Regions from separate parts of the Homo sapiens genome. Here region 2 is linked to region 1. Evidence: fine-mapped expression QTL. Tissue or cell type: monocytes after Pam3CSK4. Region 1 holds a variant in brackets; the other region holds the start of a gene. All regions are shown on one strand. Distances are between the middles of the regions.

Region 1 (10,732 bases):
TTCGAGTATTCTATACATATTTTATGTTATATGTAAATGTTTTAAACTTAAAATATATATATATATAATTTTTAAAATATACTTAAATTTAAAAAATTTAAAGCCAGTGTGTTTAATGTTTTCTTTTCTCCCCCATAAAACACATGATAATTGTTTAGATATTTATCAGTTGTTCAGTAGTATCTGAATTATTGAATACTTTAAAATGAATTTTACTTTAAAATTAAATGAAGAGTCATCATCATGCCAAATAATTAGTGTCATTTATGATATGGTTAACTAATTGGCAGTATTCTCAGAAAGTTTCTGCCCAAGCCAACATAATACCTTTGGGCATTTAGTGTTTGCCCATCCTCTAAAATGTGAAGAGAACTAACCCCAGGCCAGAATGAAAGGTTGGTCATTGGCATGCCTATCATCATACCTCCTTTTTCAGTGTTTCAGCTTTTTAAAAATCTTGCTTGAGTTTAACTTGGACTCCCCCTGCTTATAAACTGTTTTTTTTTTTTTTGTGGGGGAGGGTTATAACATATGTATTGATAAAGCACATATTGTAAGCTTGACTTCTAACATCTTAAAGCCAAAATTAGTTCTTCTGGAATTCTACAGTACATATTCTTGCTCATTATATATTCTGGCTTTTTTGCTCATCATTAGGTTTGTGTGGTTCATTTATATTGGTTTGTGTAGTTGTAGATTGTTCATTCTCATTGTTGTATAATATTCCGTCATGTGAATTTTATGTATTTGTTCTTGTGTTGTTAGACCTAATTTTGCTTAGGTTTCCAGAGCTGTCATGCTCTAAAATTCTAGTACCCTATTCTCTCCTCAAAATCAAAACAGGCAATGGAAGAGAAAATCTGATATTTGCACTGTTGTGCTTGACAATTGATATTATAATTAGTGAAAAGACTATAAGATTTAAGTACTAGCTGTGCAACATACTTAACTAGATGATCTTAGGCAAGTCACTGTACCTCTCCAAACCTCTGAAAATGGGATAATAATGTAAGCCTTATCTAACATAAAGGGTTCATTAAGGATCAGAATAAGTAATGTATAAGAATATAGGCTGTACACACACACACACACACACACACACACACACACAAGCACATAAAAATAACAGGATTGGTATTGGTAATGTCAATTTGTTCTTAGCAGGGCATTTGTATTTTTAGCTTTTCATTTCTGATTGTAGAATGAAAAGTTTTAAGAATATGTAGACATTATTGCGTGTATTTTAAGTAGATATTTTTACATAATTAGCAATTATAACTGTTGACAATATTAATTTCAAATATGTACAGTCTGAAGGTAAAATAACTATGAAAGTTAAATAACTATCTCTTTATATGTTTAGGCTCGATTATTTGATGAACCTCAGCTTGCTAGTCTTTGTCTAGATACAATAGACAAAAGCACAATGGATGCAATAAGTGCAGAAGGGTTTACTGATATTGATATAGGTAAGTTCGCTATGAAGTAAATTGTTACATTTTAAGTACAGTTAATGCCTTACTTGTCAGCCTTGTTGGAGAAGGGGCTATTTTTAAATCAGTGGCTTTCCCAAATGATTGAAGTCTCTCTAAGAGTTTTGCTTTTTTTTGTTTTGGTGAAAATATTTCTAAAAGTCTTAACTAGCTCATTGCCTGTTAAAAGATTTCAAATCAAATAAATATTCATTGAATGCCCATCATATGCATGGCATTATTCTAGGGTCCATAGGAAATATAAAAAATAGTAAGAGATGAGTTGTCTTGTTAAGGAAACGTCTAATTGGAGAATCAAAGAACAAATATTTGAAAATTAAGATTTAAAACGCTAATAGAAGAGAGGGCATTAATACCTGGGTGATGAAATAGTCGGTACAGCAAACCCCGATGACACAAGTTTACCTCTGTGACAAACCTGCACATGTACCCCTGAACTTAAAATAAAAATTAAAAAAAAAGAGAGGACATATGGTAAAATGTGATTTCTATCTTTTCTAAATTAGATATGTAGAAAGTAATTACTATGCAAATCCGGAAAATGGTGCGATTACTTCAAATTGCAGTAGTGTTAGGAAAATTTTGACAGAGGAGGTTCTGATATGAGCCTTAAAGAATGGATAGCACAGTAGGTCCTTGAATAATGTCGTTTCATTATAATGTTGATAAGAAAAAAATGGACGCCTGGCGGGGGCCACGATCTGTAGGGTTTACATGTTCTCCTGTATCTTCGTGGTTTTCTCCAGGCACTCTAGTTTCCTCTCACATCCCAAAGATGTGCATTTAGGTTCTTTGGTGTGTCGAAATGGCCTCAGTCTGAATGAGAGTGTGTGTGAGTGTGCCCTGTGATGAAATGATGTACTGTGTGGGATTGGTTCCTGCCTATACCAAGCCACTGGGATAAGCTCTGGCCACCTGAGACTCTGAACTGGAATAAGTGGATTGGAAAATGATTTATCAAGTAAAAATTTGTAAAGTATATGATAATCATACAAATGTTTGATGATAAATGACATAGTATGAAAGCGCTCGGCAAGTCCACTATGTTATTTGCTTTTGAACTGCGTTGTGTGGGAGGTCCTCCTCAAAATTTTCACTTTGTAAACGTTTATTCCTGGATTTAACCCACCACCACTATGACCACTGTCACTCACTGATTCACCAAAAATTGGGTAAATGATTCTCTTTCTTGTCTGTATTAATCTTTCTTAAATGTATGTATAGCTCACATTTATTTCACTGTTCAATTTAGAAGTGCTTTGAGTCTTTATTTAGAAGCTTGGTGGTATTTTTGTGACCAGAAATATGCCATAGGAACTTAACTCTTGTTTCTATCAGTTAGCTCATGGTAAAATTGCTTTCGTTAGACACTTTCATTTGAAGTCACAGTTTCCAAGAACCCATACGTTGAGGACTTACTGTGTTTGGATAGTGGAGAGGGGAGGGCATTAGCGGCAAGTGGAACCTCAGGAAGAAGTGTATAAGAGGAAGGAGGTGCAAAGCAGGTTAAAGCCAGGTGATAGAGGACCATCTAATGATAGGCTAACAATGTACCTTTTGTCTTGTAGGAGAGTAGAGAGATCTAATCCAGGCCCGTGGCTTTAAATACTATCTTTATGATGATAACCCAAAATACGTATCTTCAGTCCCTGTCGTCTTCTGGGCTACAAACTCATATACCCAACTGTCTACTTGACATTCTCATTTGGAGATTTTATAGGCATTTGAAACAGAACAGCTAAAGGAGAACCATTGATTCCTCTCGCTGTCTGTGAGGACTCTTCTGTTCCTTTCCAACTGTTTTCAGTCTTCCTTAACAACACCACCATGAACCTGATTGCTTGGGCTAAAAACTCCTGTTATTCTTGGTTATTCTTTCTCTCATACCCCACATGCAGTCTTATCAGCAGGTGCTCATGGCTCTACTTTGAATATGTATCCTGAATCTGACCACTACTTAACCATATCCGTGGCTACCACCTAGTCTAAGCCACCATTCTCTTTCACCTGGATAATTGCAGTGGTCTCTTGTAGTCTCTCCTTTCATGCAGTCTTGCTCCCATACACTCCATTCTCTACATGGCAGCCAGAATGATCTTTATAAATAAAAAATCAGCCCATATAACTTCCTTGCTTCCAGTGTCTTCCCACATCCATTTGCATAAAATTTAAATTCCTTATAAAAGCTCACAGTAATACAAGGCCTGTGGAGTCAGGCCTTGTATTTGTCAGGCTGTGGTAAGAAATAGACCCAAAAATGCAGACTGGCTCAAACACAGAAGTTTATTTCACGCTCATATAACAGACCAAGGGAGTATTATAGTCAATAGGTAGTTCGTTCTTGTTGTTCTGTCATGCCCTAGAGCCTAGCTATTATCTGTGTTTTGCTGGCAGATGGGAGAAAGTGTGGATGGGGAAAATACCCACAGATTAAAAGCATTGACCCTGATATAGCACCTACATTTTGGCTGTTATTTTATTGGTCCCATTCAGTTGCAAGATCTCACCTAACTTTGGAGAAGCCAGGAGATGCAGACTAGTCACATCCCAGGAAGAAGAGAAAACATCTTTGGTAAATAGGTAGAAGCCACTACCTACATCTGACTTTGTCTCCTACCATTCTCCCCCTAATTCAATTCCCATATGCGCTGGCCAGGATTATTTATATTCCATTCTTTTGTATTTGCTATTCCTTCTGATTAGGATCCTTCTTCCCCTGAATCTTGGCATCTCAGATTAAAGAAGACCTGAGACTTCAGACCTACTTAATTAGATACCGTGTTCCCCTAAGCAATCCCTGTTCCATTACTCTTGCTCTGATTTATTTTCCTTGTAATACACATTGCTCTCTGAAAGTCTTATCTAGGTATTTGTCTCTGTATATATATGTTGATTGTTTACTTTTCTCTCCTAAATTGTAAACTCCTTGAAGGCAGGGACTTTGTCTCGTGTACAACTCTATCACTAGCACCAAAGACAGAAGAATATAGTACATGTTCAGCTGATATTTGTTGATTAACTGGACTGACTGGCTGTGTCTAGAATAATGCTTTTTCTTCCCATCTTGGCTGGCTCTCACATAGTCTTAAGATCTTGGCTAAAATAACACTTCCATATGACTCATTTTTTGGGAGCTGATACCCCACCCTCGTCCATGATACTTGTTATATTCCTCTGTTCTAACATCCTGTTGTTAGTTGATGTATTGCACAGTACCTTGGGAACAAATAATACACTGCTTATAATATACTGAAGGACGGGGAGTAAATCAGATTCCTCCCCAGCACCTGCATGTGGTGTCTGTTGAGTACTGGATATTTGAGAGCCCTAAACACTGCCCAAGTTGTTAATGAAACATTGCTTAATCCTAAGATTTCCTCCCTGTTAGGGTAGCTGTCAGATGCTTCATTTGTTCTTCAGTGTGTTCTCATTTGAAGCATTACTGCCTGCATCTGGGTAACTTACACCTTATAAATTGCTCTTAAATTATGCATGCCGTTGGAGCCTGGGAATCTTGAAGTATGTGCCTTGTACAGGGTAGAAGCCAATAAATATTTGGTCATTTGATTTGACTCACAGTTGTTTATTTGAAAACTCAGTATTGTGTTAATATTTATGAAACAATCTGCTGTGTTTTTCTGATCTTTATTTGGTTCTCAGCTTTAACTTCGTACTTTAACACATCTGCCAGTAGAAGACCTATGTGTTTGTCTTTCTACCCCATAGACTAGTTTGTTTCAAATGTACTTGTTAAAAATTGGTAATTAATTAAAAAACATTTTTTATCAGTTATTATTATTATTTTTGTTTTTTTTGGTAGAGACGGGGTTTCGCCATGTTGCCTAGGTAGGTCTCGAACTCCTGTGCTCAAGCCATCTGCCCGCCTCAGCCTCCCAAAGTGCTGGGATTACAGGTGTGAACTATTATGCCTAGCCCCAAAAATTGGTAATTCAAGAGAAGACTGGGAGCTGAAAGAAAGGGCTGGCTTCAGGAGCTTTTTATAGCTGTCTTATATTCTCAGGATGTTTTTTCTCCTCCGGGATTTGAATATGTGTTCTGGAGGAAGAGATACTGTTTCTTACAGCCTTTTGCTAAAGGAAGAAGATAATTTATCATGTTGATAGAACAAAATGAATTTACACCAAGGGTAGTATGATGTGCTTTTTTTTTTAGTAATAAAGTTTATGTGTTTATCTCTGCGGAAGTTATTAGCATACCAAGTGGAGACATGTAGGTTCAAAGTCTTCTGGTTTTCCATCAAATGGTTGTGTCATATTGATTGCATTTAATTTACTTATGAAAGGGCTTCGTGGTGCCATAGTTTATACTCATCTGCTCAGCTACAATAAGAGATACTAAAGTTTGATTTTTAAAAAAAATTATGTGTAACCAGTTTATTTTTAACATGGTATTAAGCCTCTCCTGTGTTCTTGGGACTATGATACCTTTGCTAGGATATTACTTATGTTTGATATTAAGCAAATATTTGGCTCTTAGCATGTGTAGACCATTGCAGAAAAGTTTTT[T/G]TTTGTTTGTTTGTTTGTTTTTTTGAGGCAGAGTTTTGCTCTTGTCACCCAGGCTGGAGTGCAGTGGCGTGATCTTGACTCACTGCAGCCTCCGCCTCCCGGGTTCAAGCGATTCTCCTGACCCCAGCATCCCGAGTAGCTGGGATTACACAGGCACCTGCCACCACGCCCTGCTAACTTTTGTATTTTTTGTGGCGATGGGGTTTCATCCTGTTGGCCAGGGTGGTCTCGAACTCCTGACCTCAGGTGATCACTCTCCTCGGCCTCCCAAAGTGCTGGGATTACAAGAGTGAGCCACTGTGCCTGCCCATATTGTAGAATAGTATTTAAAGAAATGTTTATCTGATATGTATTTATGGATAATGTAATCATATTTAATGCTTTAATTGATTTCTGCTGTAACTATAGCATACTCATTTTTATTTAAATTTAATTTAAAGTATAACTATTAGATATTTCATAGAAGTGCCTGTTTTATCTAGGTTCTTTAGAGATTTTCCTATCCATCTAGAAGTGTCGTTTTTTAGGAACTGGGGTATTTATTATTTTTTTATTAGCACAAACACATTTATTTATTAACCAAAGGGATGATCCTAATTAATCCAAGACACTTTGAAATAGCTGCATGTGAAACGTTTGTGATAAAGATAATTGAACACAGTAATGAAAAAAAACACTATGGAGATTTGCTCATTGAACTGAGCTTGATCATTCTATTAGTTAACTCCTGTCCAAAGTGATGATGGAATTTTTATTCTACTTTTTCATAGATCCGAGTACAGGCGACATTGTTCATGACACAGTACACCACTAATTTCCCATCTTTCAGTTTTCTTGTTATTGTGTTTTCCTTCCCATCCCACTCCTGATGCTGAACCAATGCACCATCTGCAAAGCTGCACACAGTCTGAGTTTTTCTGCCATCAGCTGTGGTTTCTTCAAACTTCTCTCCCAGGGTACAAGAAAACTGTGTTTTCAAAGTGCTCTCGGTTTTTATGGTGAGGTTTTTGCCATCACAAGTGATGATACAATCTGGCTTGGCCATTGCGTCCATTTTTCGCAAAGCAGTTCCCACTCCTCCTCCTTCATGTATTCATCAAAGCGTTTGCTGTCCACCAGGCGCCATCTTCCTCCCAGCTGCTGAACTGTGGCCATGGTGGGCACGGGCGGGCGGGCATGCAGAGCAGGGTTGCCGTCGGCGTGGGCAGCTTGCTGTCGAACTGGGGTATTTATTTTGACCCTTTGAGAAATCTAAAATGTTTTATTTTACCTGCCTATATTAAACAATATGTACTGGATATAATTTAGGATTCTTGTGATTATTAATGCTCACTAAGTATCAGTTACATTATTATTGTACAGTGAAGCCCTCAGGTCTGTGAAGTGTTGTTTTTTTAAAAAACTCTATAAGACCCTTGATAGCTATTCTTTTCAAGTGCTTAACGTCTTCTTTTCACAAATTTCCTCTTTTCTCTATCCCTGTTAGATTGCAGTTTATCATTTCATTCTAGTATATTAGCCTCTAAAGCCCCTTTCTCTTCTGAACTTATTGCTTCTGGGCTGTTAGAACTTAAAAGTAACTGAGCTTATTTTAATTTTGCCTATCATAAGAGGAAAAGGGTTCTGAGTGAGGACCTGAGGTACAGGCATGACGTTTATACTTGGATGTCAAATAGGAATTTCAAACTTAGTATGTCTAAAATGAAACTTCAGCTCTTTCCCCACCCCAAACCTGCACCTCCTGTGGTCTTTCCCATCTTGGTTGATGCCACCCTCATCCCTCCAGTGCATAAGCTATATAAACCTTGCAGTTATTCTTGACTCCTCTCTTTAAATCACACCTCACATCCAATCTGTTAGGAAATCTAATTGAGTCTTCCTTCAGAATATGTTCCAAATATGATCAATTTTCACCACTTCCACTGCTACCCTCCTTGTCCAGGCCACCATCCCTGACCTGGATCGATGCAAGAGCCTCCAACTGATATTGTCTTCACTATAGCCTCTTCTCAACACAGAAGCCAGGGTGATCCTTTCAGAACATAAAATGTGACAACTCAGAATCCTCCAGGCATTCTCCATGTCACTTAGAGTAAAAGCCAAATGATCTACAGGGTGCTGCATGATTGCCCCCTCTCCCCACAGCCTCTGGCCTCCTTGCCTGCTACTCTTCCCTCCTGCTCACTCCACTCCACCACGTTGGCCTCCTTACCATTCCTCAGATATGCCAGGCACACTTTAATATGAGAGCCTTTGTACTTTTAGTCCTGGAATACTATTCCTCTAGGTATCTATTTGGCTTACTCCCCCACTTCCTTCATGTCTTGGCATAAGTGAAGCCTGCCTAAACCACCCGATTTTATTTTATTTTATTATTTTTTGGCACAGTCTCACTCTGTTGCCTGGGCTGGAGTACAATGGCATGATCATGGCTCACTGCAGCCTGCAACCTCCCAGGCTCGAGTGATCCTGCTGTCTCAGCCTCCTGAGTAGCTGAGACTACAAGTGCATGCCACCATGCCTGGCTAATTTTTAAAAACTTTTTTGTAGAGATGGGGTCTCACTATATTGCCCAGGCTGGCCTGAAACTCCTGGGCTCAAGCCATGCTCCTGTCTCAGCCTCTTAAATTGCTGGGACTACTGGCATGGGTCACCATGCCTGGCCCCTTCCTATTTTAAACTGCATTTCTGATTCTCCTTAACCTGACATATTTGCCCATGTATATCATCTAAGATACTCGAATTTACTTGTGTTTATTTAATCTGTTTCTCCTCATTAGAATGTAAGCTCCATGAGGGCAGGAATTTTTAACTTTTTGTTCAGTGATATATCAGTGCTGGCTGGGCGCGGTGGCTCACGCCTGTAATCCCAGCACTTTGGAAGGCCGAGGCAGGCAGATCACTTCAGGTCGGAAGTTTGAGACCAGGCTGGCCAACATGGTGAAACCCTGTCTCTACTAAAAATATAAAAATTAGCCAGGTGTGGTGGCCCGTGCCAGTAATCCAAGCTACCCAGGAGGCTGAGGCAGGAGAATTGCTTGAACCTAGGAGGCAGAGGTTGCATTGAGCCGAGATTGTGCCTCTGCACTCCAGCCTGAGCAACAGAATGAGACTCTATGACTCTATATCCAAAATATATACATACATATATATATATATATATATATATATATAAAATTGCCTAATAGTACCTGGCACGTAGTGCTTAATAATAAATATTTACTGAATGAACGAATGAATTATAATCTGTAGACTTTAAGAATTTATGTAATTGGAACCTTTTTCTGTGGCTTGTTAATCTTATTCTGGATAGTTGAGTTTACTTGATAAATGGCATAAATATATAAGGAGAGTACTGTATCTTAATATTGCATGTATGGTAAGTAATAAATTGATTGTTAAACTGATTTTTATGGAACACTTTGGAGTTTAAGTCCTTTAATTATTTAGTATTTTAAAGTATAAAGTCTGTAGTTTTAAGTGTCTAACCTATTTTTTGTTGAGATCTGAAAACTTAATATAAGTGTGTCTGTTGGTATTGCTTGGTTAGAGAGCTAAAATATTTCTAATTGGGTTTATTTTGTATTTTGCCTATAGATACACTCTGTGCAGTTTTAGAGAGAGACACACTCAGTATTCGAGAAAGTCGACTTTTTGGAGCTGTTGTACGCTGGGCAGAAGCAGAATGTCAGAGACAACAATTACCTGTGACTTTTGGGAATAAACAAAAAGTTCTAGGAAAAGCACTTTCCTTAATCCGGTTCCCACTGATGACAATTGAGGAATTTGCAGCAGGTAAGGGTATAAATTCACCAAAATCTATTTGAAACTGTTTTAATAGTCTGTCAGGGCTGGGCCTGGTGGCTCACACCTATAATCCCAGCACTTTCGAGAGGCCAAGGCAGGTGGATCACTTGAGGACAGGAGTTCGACACCAGCCTTGTCAACATGGTAAAACCCCGTCTCTACTAAAAGTACAAAAAATTAGGCATGGTGGTGGGCACCTGTAATCTCAGCTACTCAGGAGGCTGAGGCAGGAGAATCGCTTGAACCCAGGAGACGGAGGTTGCAGTGAGCCGAGATCATGCCGTTGCATTCCAGCCCGGGCGACAGAGCGAGATTCCACGAGACTCCATCTCAAAAAAAAAAAAAAATTCTATCAGTCTCCCTGCGCCAGAGAGGAAAAGAAGCTTTTATTCAGTACTAATCACATGACAAACATATATGCGAGTGTATGATTTTAAGCCCTTCAAAATTATATTATCCACATTGTATAGGTTAGAGAAGTAAAGTTGGGAGAGGTTGAGTGCCTTACCCCAGGTTATGACAGATCTTTTTGGCTTTTTTTTTTTTTCTTTTTTTTCTTTTTTTGAGACAGAGTCTTCCTCTGTTACCCAGGCTGGAGTGCCGTGGCACAAACGCATTTCACTGAAGCCTCCACCTCCCAGGCTCAATCAATCCTCCCACCTCAGCCTCCCAAATAGCAGGGACTATAGGTGCACACTACCATGCTCAGCTAATTTTTTAATTTTTTTTATAGAGACAGGATTTCACCATCCTGTCAGGGCTGGTCTTGAACTCCTGGGCTCAAGCCTCCCAAAGTGCTGGGATTACAGGTGTAAGCCACCACGCCCAGCCTCTGTTTGACTCTTAAGGTCGATGCTTCTGATTAAAATCAGACAGATCTGTTTTGAGTCTCCATGACCACTTCTG
Region 2 (9,366 bases), 20 kb before region 1:
CAAACCCTAACCTCAGGTGATCTGCCTGCCTTGTCCTTCCAAAGTGCTGGGATTACAGGCGTGCGCCACTGCAACAGCCCAGAATAATTTTTTTCTTTAACAATGCCTTCAAACAGTTGTTTACACACACACACACACACACACACACACACACACACTCCAGCTTGTATAGTTGTTTTTGGTGGGAGGGTTAGACAAGTTGGTACATTATGGCTGAAACTGGAAGTCTACTTACTTCTATAACAAACATGTATTATTTTAAACATTTCCTTTAAAACAATAATAACATGTTTAACGAGCTCATCTGGAACCAGTCTTCCCTGAAGGTTATTATTTTGAAAGTTTTAATGTCCTGTATAGATAATTGAATTGTCCAGGTTTTCTAGACGAGTACATTCCTTTGATATTTTCAAAGCCACTAATAGAATTACTCATATTTTTAAACTCCACAATTATGTTTATATATCCTTTCTTATGTCCAATTCTATGTTTTTTAATCTCTTTCCTTTTAAACTAGCTAGTATAGTATACTATAGAGTGTGATCTATGAAAGGCCTGCATTAGAATACCTGGGATGACACTTAAAAGTAGTAAGTGAATTAATTTTCTGAATCATCAATGGATACTGAAATCAGTAGGTGAAAGCTTTTTGGGGAAACAGACTGGTCAAACAGTCTCAGAGCATCACCCTCATGGATTACTTATTACATAAGAATCATACACCTTCATAATGGAGGGATCTGACAGTCACAGCCTCACCAGGTCATCAAGCTTAGCATCACCAACATACGCTTTCTGAAGTGAGGCAATGAAGTACTTAACATCACCAGCATATTCTTGCCTAAAATGTTTAACCTGGAATCTAACCATGAATCATACAGAATCCACCAGACAAATCCAGATTGTGGAGCATTATACTCCACAATTCCCCGGACCTTCAAAGAAGTCAACACAGTCAATAATATGTGAACATTGATTTGATCCTGGATTGGAAAAAAAGTCATCTGTGAAAGATATTTTTGGCCAGGCACAGTGGCTCATGCCTGTAATCCCAGCACTTTGGGAGGCCAAGGTGGGCAGATCATAAGGTCAGTAGATTGAGACCATCCTGGCTAACACGGTGAAACCCCGTCTCTACTAATGACAGGTGAAGCCAACTGGACTTCTGGGTAGGGTGAGGACTTGAAGAACTTTTCTGTCTTACAAGTGGTTTGTAAAATGTGCCAGTCAGTGCTCTGTAAAAACACACCAATCAGCACTCTGTGGCTAGCTAGAGGTTTGTAAAATGGACCAATCAGCACTCTGTAAAGTGGACCAATCAGCACTCTGTAAAATGGACCAATCAGCATTCCGTAAAATGGACCAATCAGCACCCTGTAAAATAGACCAATCAGCACTCTGTAAAGTGCACCAATCAGCATTCTGTAAAATGGACCAATCAGCAGGACATGGGCGGGGACAAATAAGGAAGTAAAAGCTGACTCCACCCCCCCCACCCCCGCCGGCCCCTCCCCTCCTGCCCCCACGCCCAGAGACTGCAACCACCCGTTGGGGTTCCTTTCCATGACATAAGGGCTTTGTTCTTTTGCTCTTCAGAAGAAGTCTTTGGGTCCCTGCCATCTTAAGAGCTATAAAACTCATCAGGAAGGTCCACAGCTCCATTCTTGAAGTCAGCAAGACCACGAACCCACCAGAAGGAACGAACTCTGGACACACTAAAAATACAAAAAAAAAAAAAAATCAGCAGGCTTGGTGGCAGGTGCCTGTAGTCCCAGCTACTCGGGAGGCTGAGACAGGAGAATGGCGTGAACGTGGGAGGCAGAGCTTGCAGTGAGCGGAGATCATGCCACTGCCCTCCAGCCTGGGCAACAGAGCAAGACTCCGTCTCAAAAAAAAATTTTTTTAGAGACAAGTGGAGAAACAAATATTAACTGTACATTAAATATTATACATAGGACCAGGCCTGGTGGCTCATGCCTGTAATCCCAGCACTTTGGGAGGCCGAGGCGGGTAGATCACGAGGTCAGGACTTGGAGAGGAGCCTGGCCAATATGGTGAAACCCCGTCTCTACTAAAAATACAAATAATTAGCTGGATGTGGTGACACGCACCTGTAACCCCAGCTACTCGGGAGGCTGAGGAGGAGAATCGCTTGAGCCCGGAAGGCAGACTTCATGCCATTGCACTCCAGCTTTGGCAACAGAGCGAGACTCCGTCTCAAAAAAAAAAAAATCATATATAGATGATTTGATGATATGGTTAATTTTGTTAGGTGTGATAATGGTATCATTAGTAGCATGATGTCCCTTTGTCTTTAGGAATTGCCGGCTGGCAATGGGGAAGGGGTTGTGCATCCACTATTTCAGCCCCTACTACTTTAAGTCTCTTCCCAAGCACGTTCCTCTCCCAAAGAAGTTACCATTCTAAATGCCTAACAGCTGGAAGTCCCCTCTGGTGGTTTCACAAGTGGAGTGATTTTACAGGAGAAACCCAGGTTTGGGGTTTACTATTTACTTGACGGCATTTGTAATCTGTAAGGCTCTTCCTGCAAAGAACAGGTGTTTCCAACTATACGTGCCTGGTCAAGGACTATTTCTTGGGTTTTCTACGTTCTGCTTTTGACAGCTGACTTAACTCAGGGCCTGCCTCACTGAAGGGAGAAAAAGGAAGGCCTCGGTCCCCCAATCATGATGACCGGGTTGTAAATACTGCCTGGGAAGGGATAATACAGCCTTTTCCATTGTGTGTGTGTTTTAGTTTTTAATTTTTTAAATTTCAAGCTTAGGCAGTGGTTCAGTGCAAGGACTGAAAAGCGCTACAAGAGAAGGTGGGCAAGCACGAGGGGTTTCAAATACAGGGGTGGAAGCAGTAGAAGGAAATGTCTCTTAGGCCCAGAGGACGGAACCAAAGGGTCAATTAGAAGGGAAAGGGACCTGCGGACCTGGGGAGAGGTCACTGGGGTTCTAAGCCTTCCACCTCTGCTTCCGGAATTTCCACGGGTTTCGCGGCCTTCTGGAGCGGCGACTTGGCCACGCTTGGGGTACAGGGTTGTGGGAAGTCATGTCATCCCCTCCCTCACGTGTTCCCTTGGCCATACTTTCCTGCCCCTCCACTTCCAGGCAAAACACTCCTCGGGACAGGCCTTGGGACATGTCCCAGATACACAATGGGGGCGCTGGACTTGGTGATAAGGGGCCTGCAGGAAGAAAAAGGCAGCCGTGAGAGCCGCCTGCAGATCCACGATGCATCTTAAAATTACAAATTCTCAGGCCCTACCCCAGACCTACTGAGTCAGAATACCCAGGGCACTGAGCCAGGGGGTGGGTGCCCGTAGGCCCGGCAGCACCCAGCCTGCAGAAGCTCCACCTCCGGGAGCGCTGAGCTAGGACCAGCTCCCCACGCCCCTGCCCTGGGGCTGCCGGGAGTCCAGTCCTGTTACACCTCCCGCGGCCGCGCACAGCGGCAACCCGGGCGTGCGGGGGCGCGCGCGGTCAGGGAGGGGCCTGCGGAGGCGCGAGGCCCCCGGAAGCGCCTTTCCCGGAAGGCAGGGAGGCAGCGCCGGCCTCCGGAGGCGGCCTGGGCGATGGCGGCGGAGTTTTGTCCATAACGTGGGCAACCGCGCAGCTGGAGGATGGCCTCACTCGGGCCTGCCGCAGCTGGGGAGCAGGCGTCGGGGGCTGAGGCGGAGCCGGGCCCCGCGGGGCCGCCGCCGCCGCCCTCACCGTCCTCTCTGGGGCCCCTGCTCCCCCTGCAGCGGGAACCTCTCTACAACTGGCAGGCGACCAAGGCGTCGCTGAAGGAGCGCTTCGCCTTCCTCTTCAACTCGGAGCTGCTGAGCGATGTGCGCTTCGTACTGGGCAAGGGTCGCGGCGCCGCCGCCGCTGGGGGCCCGCAGCGCATCCCCGCCCACCGCTTCGTGCTGGCGGCCGGCAGCGCCGTCTTTGACGCCATGTTCAACGGCGGCATGGCCACCACGTCGGCCGAGATCGAGCTGCCGGACGTGGAGCCCGCAGCCTTCCTGGCGCTGCTGAGGTGAGCGGCAGCGCGGGCCGGGCCGGGCCGGGCCGGGCCGGGCCGGGCCGGGCTGGGAGATCCCCGGGGCCCGGCCTACCCGGACTCCCGGATGACCTTGGGCTGGGCTCTTCTGACCCGCCCGGGGCCTCAGTTTCCTCCCGAGCCGTTGATGCTCCGGAGGGTCGAAATCGAAATCTGTGAACCAGGACGGCTCAGTCGCCAACTAAACGTTAGTGTCTTCATTAGGCAAGCGTGCGTTTTACCATTGAAAGGCGTTTCGCATTCCAATTATGGATTGTCGCTCAGACTTCAGAATTAGACAAGTGGCAAGGATAGAGGGGCAGATCAGGTTGTCCTGATTGCCCATTTGCGAAGTTTTATGTTTTTGTTTGGGGGAAGAGAGTAGTTGAAAAATCTTGCAGGACTGATGTTTTGGGGTTATTGTCACCCCCTTCCCCCCGCTTTTTTTGAGACAAGGTCTTGCTCTGTTGCCCAGGCTGGAATGCTGTAGCGCGATCATGGCTCACTGCAGCCTCGACCTCTCCGGGCTCAGGTGATGCTCCGACCTCAGCCTCCCGAGTATTTGGGACTACAGGCACGCGCCACCACGCCCGGCTAATTTTTTTTATTTTTATTTTTGGTAGAGAGAGGGTTTCACTATGTTGCCCAGGCTGGTCTCGGACTCCTGGGGTCAAGCGATCCGTCCACCTCGGCCTCCCAAAGTGCTGGGATTACAGGCGTGAACCACCGCGCCTGGCCACTTTTTTGTTTTTGTTTTTGTTTTTCATTAACGTATTAGTTGTCAAGACCCAGGAAAGTAAATACGAAAACAGACAAGTGAGGCTTTACCTGCTTTGTGTTTCTACACACAAGGTCACATTTGCTTATAAATGAATCCCTCCCTTGATGTTAGAATTTGCTTGTTGGTTATTTGAGGATAGTAGATTGACATCTAATGAAAAGGTGATTGTTTGGCATTACTAGCTTTTAATCACAGCCATCCTGTTAGGGAGGCGTAAGAATTGTTTACCCCAATTTCACAAATGGGACTGAGGCCCAGAAGAGTCAAGTATCTTGCCCAAGGTAACAAACAGCTAACTCACACTGAAGACCATGTCTGTTTCATTATACTAAGATGGTTTTAAATAGCTGCCTGAGTAGAACGTGTTGTTATTAAAATGGCAGAGTCTTGGGTAGTACTGAAGCAAAAACAGGCAGGTCAGTGGGACAGAATTAGATACAAAGGTTCACAGTTGAATCAGAAAGATGAACAAGAAAATGAATGTAAAGTTCACACAACTAGAAACAAATAATAAGATTCCATTGACGAATGGATAAAGGACAGGATAGATAACTTAGAGAAAGAAAAAATACAACTAATTAACGAATGTTTTACCTGGCTGGTAATTAGGAAGTGCAAATTAAAAGACAGTGGTATTTTTTCCTTCCATTAATCCCACCAAAAAATTTAAAGGTAACATCTGAACAGCATTTTCTGACAAAGATGGTGGTAAAAACCCTTTTGGAAAACAGTTTGGTGCTATAGATTTTCTTTCCACACGTAAGAAGCATTCAAGTATTGCAAATTGCATACAAAAATATTTACAGCTTTATTTATAGTAGTGAGGAAGTAGTCAGCTGTAGGGAATGGTTAAACAGTGGTAGGTTCACTTGATGAGATATAATGCAGTCACTAAATATGACGGATAGCACTTGAAACTGCACCATGGTTACAACGTGAAAAGACATGGAACAAACATATACCTAGAGACCGGGATAAAAGGAAACATACCAAAATGCTAAGCAAAGTCACCTGGAGTAGTGAGATGAAAGTACCTTTTTTTCTTCTTTATTCTTTGTTTCTGATATTTTCTGTAATTTAGTTCAGTTACATTTATAAAGGGGGGGGACCTCAAAAGCTAAAATCCAGGTCATTTTAGTTTAAAGTTCACCAGGAGGATTGGGTATAGTTCATTTGGATTTTCTAGACTAGAAGTAGTTTTCAAAATGATCTGTGGGCCGTCTGCATTATAATCTTCTGGGGTGCTTATGAAATGTGTAGATCTCATCCTCATTATATACCGTAATATTTGGAGGTGAGACCTTGGTAGCATTTTTAACACTCTCCCTAAGTGATACTTATACAAACTAAATTTAAGAACCACAAATCTAAAACTATTTTGGGGCAATTTTTTACTTTGAAAAAATATTGAGATTACTAGGATAAGAATGTAGAGGAAAAATACATATTTTAATATTTTCACCGAAGCTGCTAATTAGTGCTTTCCCATCAATAGAAAGTAAGTTAATTTTAGAGTGTTTGAAATGTAGGACAGTGCAATTTTTTTTTTCACATTGTAAAACATTTTTTACATTTTTAAACTTTTTTTTCATTTTTACATTTTCAGTGTGTTTTATTTTCCTAGCATTGTATTTATCCTTCAGGTTCTGGTCATTGTTCTATTTTGAAATTGATATCTGGACTGATTTCTAAATTTAATTTTGGCTGGCTGTGTAACGTAGATGTTGTTGTTAGCTAATACGTGACAAAAAGATGCCTGATAGTACTTGCTAAGTTGGAAGAGCAGGTTAGTTTGGGCATACTTGTAAACATCCTGAATTAGTTAACATTACTTACAGGCTCATGAACTTAAGTTTGAAGCCCTTAAAGAAACTGTGCACTTTGAACTGCCTGACCTTTAAATGATGTTCTTCAGTTGTTTGACAAATACTATATGCCTCCCTTTTGGGGCGCTTGTGAAACAGCGAATGGCTGTTGTAGGTGTTTGGGACACAGCAATAAACAAGAAAAAGTCCTTGCCCTCATGAAGCACATAATCTAGTAAAGGGAAACTAAAGATACAATGTCAAGTACTGATGAATGTTTTGAAGAAAAATAATCAAGTTATGAGAGAAGGAACATTCTCAGCAAGGGAACGCATTGTTTTCGGCACTAAGTATCTCCTGTTGGAGGAACACAAGAGTGAACCAGTGTGCCTTAAGCACAGTAGAGGGAAGTGGTAGAAAATGAGGTCAAAAAGATAGGCCAGACAGGATGGTGCAGGGCTTTAGAGACTGAGCGAAGACTTTTTCAGCTGGTATTTGATGGAAAGCCTTTGGAGAGTTTTGAATGAGATTGGGGAGGCGGAGGTGGTGGCAGGAGGTTGTGATCTGATTTACATTTTAAAAAAACAAACTCTTTCTGGCAGTGGTTGGAGTAAAATAGGCAGCAAGGTGATAGATGAAGAGGCTTTTGCAGTAGTCCAGGCAAGAGGCGATGGTGAATTGTACCTTGTACCAGGGAGGTAGCAAAGGACATGATGAGACATGGTCAAATTCTGGATATATTTTTGAAGGTACAACCAAGAGGACTTCCAAGACATCCAAGTAGTGTCATAGAGTAGACAGAAATATGAATTTGGAGGTGAGGGAACAGCTTGCTGAACATAAATTTGCAAGTTAAGAGTGAATGGTATTTAAATCGAGAGATCAAGTGAGATTACCTAGGAAGGCATGTAGACTGTGAAGAGAGGTACAAGGATGAGCTCTGGAATCTTCAAATATGTAGAGATGTAGCAGAGAAAAAGCATAAAATGAAACTGAGAAGCAGCTGTCAGTGGAATTAGAAGAGAAAGAAGGAGCATTATATTCTGAAAGTCAAGTCAAAACATTTCAAGAAAGAAGAAGTGGGAAATGTCAACTATGGAAAGTGGAAAGTGGTCAGTTATGCTCAATGCTATTGAGAGTCAGGTATAATGAAGACTTTGAGTTGATTTTTAATCTTGACAAGGTGGAAGCTATCGATAACCCTGCCAAGAGTGATTTCAGCTGATTAGAGTAGGTTAGGCAGAAAATGGGAAGTGAGGAGCTGGAGACAGTATAAACAGTCCTCTCAGGAGTTTTGTTGCAAAGGGGAACAGAGAATGACGTGATGGCTGGAAGGGGCACGAGGTAAGTGTTCTTCAGTATTCAGTCCTCAGCTCTCATCCTTTCTCCCATCAACCAAAGTGAGAGCTTTACGCACTCATTCCCCCACATGTGTCTCCAAAGCTCTACTTAGCTCCAGACCCTCATTTCCAACTGGACCATCGTGAAGTAATGTTTTATACCCATGCAGATGGACATGTTATTAATGAAAATATCTGACATTTAATGAGTACTTTTACTGTGTGCCATAGATTGTTCCTAAGCCCCTTTGTGATCTCACTTAAATTTCAGGAAAATCCTTTGAGACAGGCATACTTCTTATCCCCCTGCAATAGCTTTTGCCATATTAATGCTATAAATAAAGCAACCCCCAAAAAGCAATAATTTATTCTTGCTTATGATTCTGTAGGTCAGCTAGGAAATGACTTCATGGGCCTAGCTCCAAATTGTAGTTTCGTTTCACTCCATTCTACACATTTCTTGTCCATTTTAGACCATTCCTGAAAATTTTACCTGCCTCTCCATTTTTTTCTGCATTGCTTCAACCAAACTACTGCGTTTAGACTTAACTCTCTCCATTCATCCTGTTAACAGTGATCTCTCCAATATTGGTATATGGTCATATAATTCCCCTGAATCTTTTAATGACTTCTTTTTACCTACAGGATGTTTAAACACTTTAGCAGGTACATGAAACCTTTGTGATTTGATCTCTCTTTCTTCATCTCCTCTCCATCCACTCAGTGTTTCAACCCTAATTACTAATGGCCTTTTTCTTGTTTTAGTGCCTGCTTCTAAGGCCTCCTTACCTTTGTACTCCTCAGTCTTTCTGCCAGGGCTCCACACTTAATTACTACTCTTCAGATAATCTTCAGGCTTTACTTCCTCTGTAAAAATTCCACCCACAGGCAAAATTGCACACTGGCTCATCTAATTAATCTCTCACAGCATGTTTTGGTTATCTGTTGCTGTGGAACAAATCACTGGAATGCGTAGTGACTTAAACAACTTTTATTATCTTTTACAGTTGTGTGGGTTGACTGGAATCACTTAGGTGGTTTGTCGTCTATGTAGCTGTAGTCAGATAGCAGGTGGGGTTGGACTCATCTGGAGGTTTAACTCACAGTCTGGGATGGCTGAGCCTTAAGTCTCAGGTCCTCTTCAAGAGGCTTCTTCAGCTGGTCTCTCCAGCAGGGTAGCTTGACTTCGTGGCTCATGACTCCGAGGAACACAAAAGCAGGAGCTGCCAGGCATCCTTAAGGTGTAGGTCTCAGACTGGTGCAATGTCACTCTGCCACAATCTGTTGGTTCAAGGGGCTCACACAGGGACAACCCAGATTCATCATGGGACAGATCTATGTAAGGACATGAACACAAGAAAGTATGATTTCTTGGGGCCATCATTAGAGATTAGTTATTAGATAT

Alleles and levels. Alleles are on the strand shown, and positions count from the first base shown. SD is a standard deviation of normalised expression in the study named.
As copies of G replace T in region 1, the expression in monocytes after Pam3CSK4 of the gene that starts at base 3,531 in region 2 goes up (large effect, 1.0 SD a copy in Quach 2016).

Evidence for each region. PIP is the estimated chance that this variant, and not a neighbour inherited with it, causes the effect.
Region 2: it holds the start of BTBD1, and the variant in region 1 is fine-mapped to the expression of BTBD1 in monocytes after Pam3CSK4 (Quach 2016, PIP 0.95).

The regions. Positions count from the first base shown.
Region 1 is chr15:83,040,810-83,051,541 of GRCh38, reverse strand. BTBD1 (BTB domain containing 1) reads left to right here. Exons shown (of 8, transcript NM_025238.4): 3 at 1,364-1,469; 4 at 9,617-9,814. All of the region lies in intron 1 of LOC124903542 (a long non-coding RNA gene), which reads right to left. It also overlaps the pseudogene FABP5P8. Among named protein-coding and RNA genes, the nearest start is that of BTBD1, 21 kb to the left of the region's middle. The variant T/G (reference allele first, on the strand shown) is at 6,020.
Region 2 is chr15:83,061,417-83,070,782 of GRCh38, reverse strand. BTBD1 (BTB domain containing 1) reads left to right here and starts at 3,531. Exons shown (of 8, transcript NM_025238.4): 1 at 3,531-4,032. The coding sequence starts at 3,632. It overlaps MIR4515 (microRNA 4515), which reads right to left and starts at 3,448; the gene lies at 3,368-3,448. It overlaps LOC124903542 (a long non-coding RNA gene), which reads right to left. Exons shown (of 2, transcript XR_007064742.1): 2 at 8,938-9,296. RefSeq lists silencers at 1,398-1,447, 3,324-3,803, 4,044-4,213 and enhancers at 1,352-1,646, 3,084-3,133, 3,144-3,263.